2 linked regions of the Homo sapiens genome follow. The protein of the gene in region 2 purifies or fractionates together with the protein of the main gene of each other region. This does not show direct contact. Each region holds a gene or a part of one and is shown on either strand. Other genes may lie near its edges.

Evidence for each region.
Region 1: the proteins of PPP1R14D (region 2) and LANCL2 purify together in Homo sapiens (affinity purification with mass spectrometry; one large-scale study listed by BioGRID and IntAct). This does not show direct contact.

Annotation. Positions count from the first base shown.
Region 1 is NC_000007.14:55,399,717-55,403,533, reverse strand, and holds part of LANCL2 (lanC-like protein 2), read right to left. Parts: intron 3,578-3,817; coding exon 3,430-3,577; intron 2,361-3,429; coding exon 2,214-2,360; intron 1-2,213. UniProt on the Homo sapiens protein: Necessary for abscisic acid (ABA) binding on the cell membrane and activation of the ABA signaling pathway in granulocytes.
Region 2 is NC_000015.10:40,818,471-40,822,287, forward strand, and holds part of PPP1R14D (protein phosphatase 1 regulatory subunit 14D), read right to left. Parts: intron 1-3,817. UniProt on the Homo sapiens protein: Inhibitor of PPP1CA. Has inhibitory activity only when phosphorylated, creating a molecular switch for regulating the phosphorylation status of PPP1CA substrates and smooth muscle contraction.

The sequences.
Region 1 (3,817 bases), on a different chromosome or scaffold from region 2:
GAACAGATAACTAATCTGCTTTAAGACTCCATACCGAAAGAAAATTGGAAAGGCTCCTCCTCTCCCTCTCCCTCCTCTCCCTCTCCCTCTCCCTCTCTTTCCACGGTCTCCCCCTGATGCCGAGCCAAAGCTGGACTGTACTGCTGCCATCTCGGCTCACTGCAACCTCCCTGCCTGATTCTCCTGCCTCAGCCTGCCGAGTGCCTGCGATTGCAGGCGCGCGCCGCCATGCCTGACTGGTTTTCGTATTTTTTTGGTGGAGACGGGGTTTCGCTGTGTTGGCCAGGCTGGTCTCCAGCTCCTAACCGCGAGTGATCCGCCAGCCTCGGCCTCCCGAGGTGCCGGGATGGCAGACGGAGTCGCGTTCACTCACTCAGTGTTCAATGGTGCCCAGGCTGGAGTGCAGTGGCGTGATCTCGGCTCGCTACAACCTCCACCTCCCAGCTGCCTGCCTTGGCCCCCCAAAGTGCCGAGATTGCAGCCTCTGCCCGGCCGCCACCCCGTCTGGGAAGTGAGGAGCGTCTCTGCCTGGCCGCCCATCGTCTGGGATGTGAGGAGCCTCTCTGCCTGGCTGCCCAGTCTGGAAAGTGAGGAGCATCTCTGCCCAGCCGCCATCCCATCTAGGAAGTGAGGAGCGTCTCTGCCAGGCCGCCCATCGTCTGAGATGTGGGGAGCGCCTCTGCCCTGCCGCCCCGTCTGGGATGTGAGGAGCGTCTCTGCCCGGCCGCCCCGTCTGAGAAGTGAGGAGACCCTCCGCCCGGCAACCGCCCCGTCTGAGAAGTGAGGAGCGTCTCCGCCCGGCAGCCACCCCGTCTGGGAGGGAGGTGGGGGTCAGCCCCCCGCCCGGCCAGCCGCCCCGTCCGGAAGGGAGGTGGGGGGGTTAGCCCCCCGCCCAGCCAGCCGCCCCATCCGGGAGGGAGGTGGGGGGGTCATCCCCCGCCTGGCCAGCCGCCCCGTCCGGGAAGGATGTGGGGGGGTCAGCCCCCCGCCCGGCAAGCCGCCCCATCCGGGAGGTGGGGGGCGCCTCTGCCCGGCCGCCCCTACTGGGAGGAGAGGAGCCCCTCTGCCCGGCCAGCCGCCCCGTCCGGGAGGGAGGTGGTGGGGTCAGCCCCCCGCCCGGCCAGCCGCCCCGTCCGGGAGGTGAGGGGCGCCTCTGCCTGGCCGCCCCTACTGGGAAGTAAGGAGCCCCTCTGCCCGGCCAGCCGCCCCGTCCGGGGAGGGAGGCGGGGAGGTCAGCCCCCCGCCCGGCCAGCCGCCCCGTCCGGGAGGGAGGCGGGGGGGTCAGCCCCCCGCCCGGCCAGCCGCCCCGTCCGGGAGGTGAGGGGCGCCTCTGCCTGGCCGCCCCTACTGGGAAGTGAGGAGCCCCTCTGCCCGGCCAGCCGCCCCGTCCGGGAGGTGAGGGGCGCCTCTGCCCGGCCGCCCCTACTGGGAAGTGAGGAGCCCCTCTGCCCGGCCACCACCCCGTCTGGGAGGTGTACTCAACAGCTCATTGAGAACGGGCCATGATGACAATGGCGGTTTTGTGGAATAGAAAGGGGGGAAAGGTGGGGAAAAGATTGAGAAATCGGATGGTTGCCATGTCTGTGTAGAAAGAGGTAGACATGGGAGACTTTTCATTTTGTTCTGTACTAAGAAAAATTCTTCTGCCTTGGGATCCTGTTGATCTGTGACCTTACCCCCAACCCTGTGCTCTCTGAAACATGTGCTGTGTCCACTCAGGGTTAAATGGATTAAGGGTGGTGCAAGATGTGCTTTGTTAAACAAGATGCTTGAAGGCAGCATGCTCGTTAAGAGTCATCACCACTCCCTAATCTCAAGTACCCAGGGACACAAACACTGCAGAGGGCCGCAGGGTCCTCTGCCTAGGAAAACCAGAGACCTTTGTTCACTTATCTGCTGACCTTCCCTCCACTACTGTCCTGTGACCCTGCCAAATCCCCCTCTGCGAGAAACACCCAAGAATGATCAAAAAAAAAAAAAAAAGAAAATTGGAAAAAAAAAAAAAAAAAAAAAAAAAAGACTCCATACCAAATGTACTCAGGAACTCACTGGACTCTTAGAAATCCACTGCCTGTGGTTTATGTGGCAGAGTTACGCATCAGCGATTCAAAGTAGGGTATTTCAATCCAGACTGCTTTGTTTATATGCAGGATTCATTTCCCATTTCATGTTTGATCAAATATACTGTAGTGTGTAAGAGTATTCTTACCTACCTGCATTAACATATAGTAAATTCCAGCCATGCCATGGGCTGCTCCAACGTACTGCTTCCGGTGCCACTGGTACAACAGCGGGCAGCGCTCCGTTTTTCTTTCTTCCCTTGACAAAGTCTTACCCGATTCAATAATAGCATTGACTACCTACAGAGATAACAAGACAGCATAAATCTAAAACTGTATATGTACCCTGTTGTAGTCTAATTAACAGTATGTCATATATATATGACATATATAGAGAGAGAGGCAGAAGCCTTAATCTAAAAGTCTTTAAGCAGTTAGCAGCTAATATAGTTATATTTATTTTATAAATTAATAAATGCAGGCAAAAAGAAATCAGGAGCCAATGTCAGAGTAGGAAAAGATACTGTCTAAGAAATAAAAAATTCTTTGCATAAAAAGTCAACGAAAAATCTAGAAAAACTTCTTATAAAACTGTTTTGGATTTCTTAGTTGCTTCGTAGCTGCAGTATTTTTCCCAAAAGAGCAGCACATACACCTATCAGGAAAGGCTGGAGGAACTGGCTTTATTTATAAAAGGCTAATGATATGAGGTCTGCTGTGGCATGAAGGATTTCAGTTAGATCAACAGAATATCATGTCTGGGATGACTGTTTCCTCACGTCTATCTCCTCTCATCCTTTTTGGGAAAGTATTCCAAGTTTTAGCTGGGCATCTGGCTCCCTAGTTAGAGACAGCTGAACACAGACACTTGATGAAGTTCTGGCACTGGGATGGGAGCAGAAGTAAAGAGGGCAACTTGGAGACTGAGTCCCTAACAAGGAAGCTGCGTTGCCTCCACCTCCTCTTTTCCCTTCATAGGCTGAGGGGCTAAACTAGCCTTGGTCCTGCAAATAAGGGTATGCCCCTAGGATAAGGCAGAATGAGACAGAAGAAGCTGGTCCCCACTCATACCAGCCTGAAATGCTTACCAGCTGAGACATCTCACGAAAGATAAATAAACATTCTAACTTTCTGAAGCTGCTGCTGTTTAGCTCCAGTAAAAACTGATAAATTAATACAAGATGAAAGAGAGTACAGATTTTTTTTGTTAATGTTCCTAGAAAAAAGCAGGGACTATTTCTTACTTTTGATGAGTTGCTTTAAAAAAGTAATGCTACCTAGAAGTAAAGTCCAGCTGTTAATACAACTCAATGCTAGCAAATAGGTTTGAATGGTAGAGACGCCCATAGTTACCCATACCCCATAGTACCTCTTTAATAGCTGACTCACACACGGTGCCTGGACCTATCTCTGTGTTCAGGTACAGTAAGGCATACAGATAACCTGCCCGTCCATAAAGCAGCTCATCAGGAAGGTCTGATTCTTGGCAGACAACCGATCTCTGGAGCTGCAAAAGTCTAACCAATAAGAAAAATTAATTTTTTCCCAGTGGAAGTCTAAAGTACTTCTTCCTGAAACACTAACCCTGTTGCTTTAGGAATTACCTATTATTTATTTTACATTTAAAACAATTATTTTTAAAAATACTCCCAAATCCAGAACACAACAAAAACGTCTCCAGTTTACTAGTCCCCTTTTGAATGTCAAAATTAAAAACAAAACATCTTTCTGTTAATTTCTACCTTTACATCTATTTT
Region 2 (3,817 bases):
GAAGAGTCATCGAGGAACCTAAAATGCATATGACAGTTAAATAAGCCAGTTTGAAGCCAGTCACAGTAGCATGCACCTGTATAGTCCCAAGGAGTCTAGCCTGGGCAGAAAAGTAGAGACCCTGTCTCAAAAAAAAGAAGAAGCCAACTTAAATACTCTATGATCCCAACAGTAAGACCTGCTGGAAAAAGTATGGCGATAGTAAAAAGATCAGTGATTGCCACAGGGGTAAGAGGGAGGAGGGACAAGTAGACCACAGGGGATTCTCAGGACAGTGAAACTCTTCTGTATGACACTATAACGGTGGATACATGTCATGCACATTTGTCCAAAACCATAGAATGTACAACACCAACAGTGAAGCCCAATTTAAACCATGGACTTTGGTTGATAATGTTGTCAGTGTAAATTCATTGATTGTAACAAATAATATATAACCTTGCTGCTGGGTGGGGGATAGTGGGGGAAGCTATACATATGTGGCGGCAGGGAGATATGGGAAATATCTTTTACCTTATGCTCAATTTGTCTGTGAACCTAAAACTGCTCTAAAAAATAGGTCTATTAAAAAAGGACGTGAGCTCAAATATAATTAATAAAATTAATATTTTACTGCTTCAACAAGGACATTCTTTCTGTTATCTTTTCATTTACCCATTTTACAGATGAAGAGGACTTTCTTAAGTGAAAACGATGTAGTAGTGAAGAACACGACTACTAGTACAGTTTAGTGCCACTTTCTTGATTCATGTGAAGGGCCACTGTTGCTTTTGCATTATCAGCACAAATGTCAACGTACTGAAAAAGGCAAACAAAATCTTAGCATTGGCCAGGCGCGAGGCTGAGGCAGATGGATCACTTGAGGTCAGGAGTTCGAGACCAGCCTGGCCAACTTGGTGAAACCTCCATCTCTACTAAAAATACAAAAATTAGCCAGGTATGGTGCCGTGTGCCTGTAATCCCAGCTATTTGGGAGGCTGAGGCAGGAGAATGGCTTGAACTCGGGAAGTGAGCCAATATCACGCCACTGCACTCCAGCCTGGGCGACAAAGCAAGACTCTCTTTCTCAAAAAAAAAAAAAAAAATTACCGTTATTATGAAAATAATCACAGAACCTCCGAAAGAGTTCTTGGGAATCTCCGAAAGAGTTCTTAGGAACCTCCATGGGTCACTAGACCACACTTCAAGAACTGATATGTTATCCATTTTTCTGTTGAGATTTTCAGTTTTTTTCTTACTGATTTAAGAACTCTTTCTTTTTAACTTATTGAATTCAGATTAACCCTAGATTCCACATATGATGGAAATAGCTATTGTGCTGGAGGGGTGCTGTTGGGGAAATACATGTATGTGTTTATATAGTTGAGTCTAATGGTATTTTCCAGTGTATATTGCTATTTTTTTTTTTTTTTTGAGATGGAGGTTTGCTCTTGTTGCCCAGGCTGGAGTGCAATGGCATGATCTCGGCTCACCGCAACCTCTGCCTCCCGGGTTCAAGCGATTCTCCTGCCTCAGCCTCCCGAGTAGCTGGGATTATAGGCATGCGCCACCACGCCTGGCTAATTTTGTATTTTTAGTAGAGATGGGGTTTCTCCATGTTGGTCAGGCTGGTCTCGAACTCCTGACCTCAGGTGATCTGCCCGCCTCGGCCTCCCAAAGTGCTGGGATTACAGGCATGAGCCACTGTGCCCAGCCCTTTTTTTTTGCTGACAGGGTCTCGCTCTGTCACCCAGGCTGGAGTGCAGTGGTGCGATCTCGGCTTACTGCAACCTCTGCCTCCCAGGGTGAAGCAATTCTCCTGCCTCAGCCTCCCAAGTAGCTGAGATTATAGGTGCTTGCCACCATGCCTGGCTAGTTTTTGTATTTTTAGTAGAGATGGGGTTTTACCATGTTGACCAGGCTGGTCTCTACCTCCTGACCTCAGGTGATCCACCCACCTCAGCCTCCCAAAGTGTTGGGATTACAGGCGTGAGCCACCGAGCCTGGCCTAGATTAAAAAACTTAAAAAGCAGAGCCAGAAAAGACATAAATGATAGAATTAGCAGACAAGGAAAACATAAACACAGTAATGAGAGATACAGAAGATAAAAGAAAGAATCAGGCCAGGTACAGTGGCTCACGCCTATAATCCCAGCACTTTGGGAGGCTGAGATGGGCGGCTCACTTGAGGTCAGGAGTTTGAGAGTTTGAGACCAGCCTGGCCAAAATGGTGAACCCCGTCTCTACTAAAAATACAAAAATTTAGCGAGGTGTTCTGACGTACACCTGTAATCCCAGTTACTCGGGAGGCTGAGGCAGCAGAATGGCTTGAACCCGGGAGGTGGAGGTTGCAGTGAGCCAAGATCATGCCACTGCCCTCCAGCCAGGGTGACAGAGCAAGACTCTGTCTCAAAATAAAATAAAAATATAAATAAAGAAAGAAATAAAAGAACCAGCCAGGCACAGTGGCTCATGCCTTAATCTCGGCACTTTGGTGGGGGTTAAGACAGGAGAGTGCTTGAGGCCAGGAGTTTGAGACCAGCCTGAGCAACATAGCAAGAACTCTTCTCCATTAAAAAAAAAATAAGAAGAAAAAAAAAGAACCAGGCCGGGTGCCGTGGCTCACGCCTGTAATCCTAGCACTTCGGAGGCCGAGGTGGGGATCACCTCAGGTCAGGGGTTCGAGATCAGCCTGGCTAACATGGTGAAACCCCATCTCTACTAAAAATACAAAAATTAGCCAGACATGGTGCGCATGCCTGTAATCCCAGCTACTCAGGAGGCTAAGGCAGGAGAATTGCTTGAACCAAGGAGGCAGAGGTTGCAGTGAGCTGAGATCATACCATTTGCACTCCTGCCTGGGTGACAGAGTGAGAGTCTGTCTCAAAACAAACAAACAAACAAAACCAAATGGAGCACCTAGAGAAGAAAAATTGCATATTTTAAATGTAAACCTTACTAGATAGAATTAACAGCATGTTTAACACTGTGGGGAAAAAAAAAAGGTCAGTTGAAGATATAGCAAATGAAATGAGCCAAAATGAAGCACAGATTAAAAAAAAACCTGGGTGGGCAGGGTAGTGGGGGAGGACAGAATAGAAAAGAACTTCGATGACCTATGGATATCAAGTGGTCTAACATCTGTAACTGGAATCTCAGAGGGTGTGAGTGGGCATTATAATAAAGATAAACTCTAGGCCAGGCGTGGTGGCTCATGCCTGTAATCCCAGCACTCTGGGAGGCTGAGGCAGGCGGATCACCTGAGGTCAGGGGTTTGAGACCAGACTGGCCACCATGGCGAAACCCCATCTCTACTAAAAATACAAAAATTAGCCGGGTGTGGTGGTGCATGCCTGTAACCCCAGCTACTGGGGAGGCTGAGGCAGGAGAATCAGTCAAACCTGGGAGGCGGAGGCTGCGGTGAGGCGAGATCGTACCACTGTACTCCAGCGTGGGCGATAAAGTGAGACTGTGTCTCAAAAACAAACAAACAAACAAAACACACTCTAATGATTAGAACTTTGCCTTTAAAAAAGTATCAGTCTTGGTCAGGTGCAGTGGCTTATGCCTGTAATCCCAGCACTTTGGGAGGCTGAGGTGGGAGGATTGCTTAAGTTCAGGAGTTCGAGACCAGCCTGGGCAACATGGCAGACCCCATCTCTATTTTTTAAAAAACATTTTAAGTTTATAATGTAAAAAAGTTACAGTAATCTGAAGTTAGCTTATTACTGAAGAAAGAAAAAAAATGTTATAGGCTGGGCACAGTGGCTCATTCCTATAATCCCAGTACTTTGGGAGGTCAAGGCAGGCAGATTGCTTGAGCCCAAAAGTTCAAGTC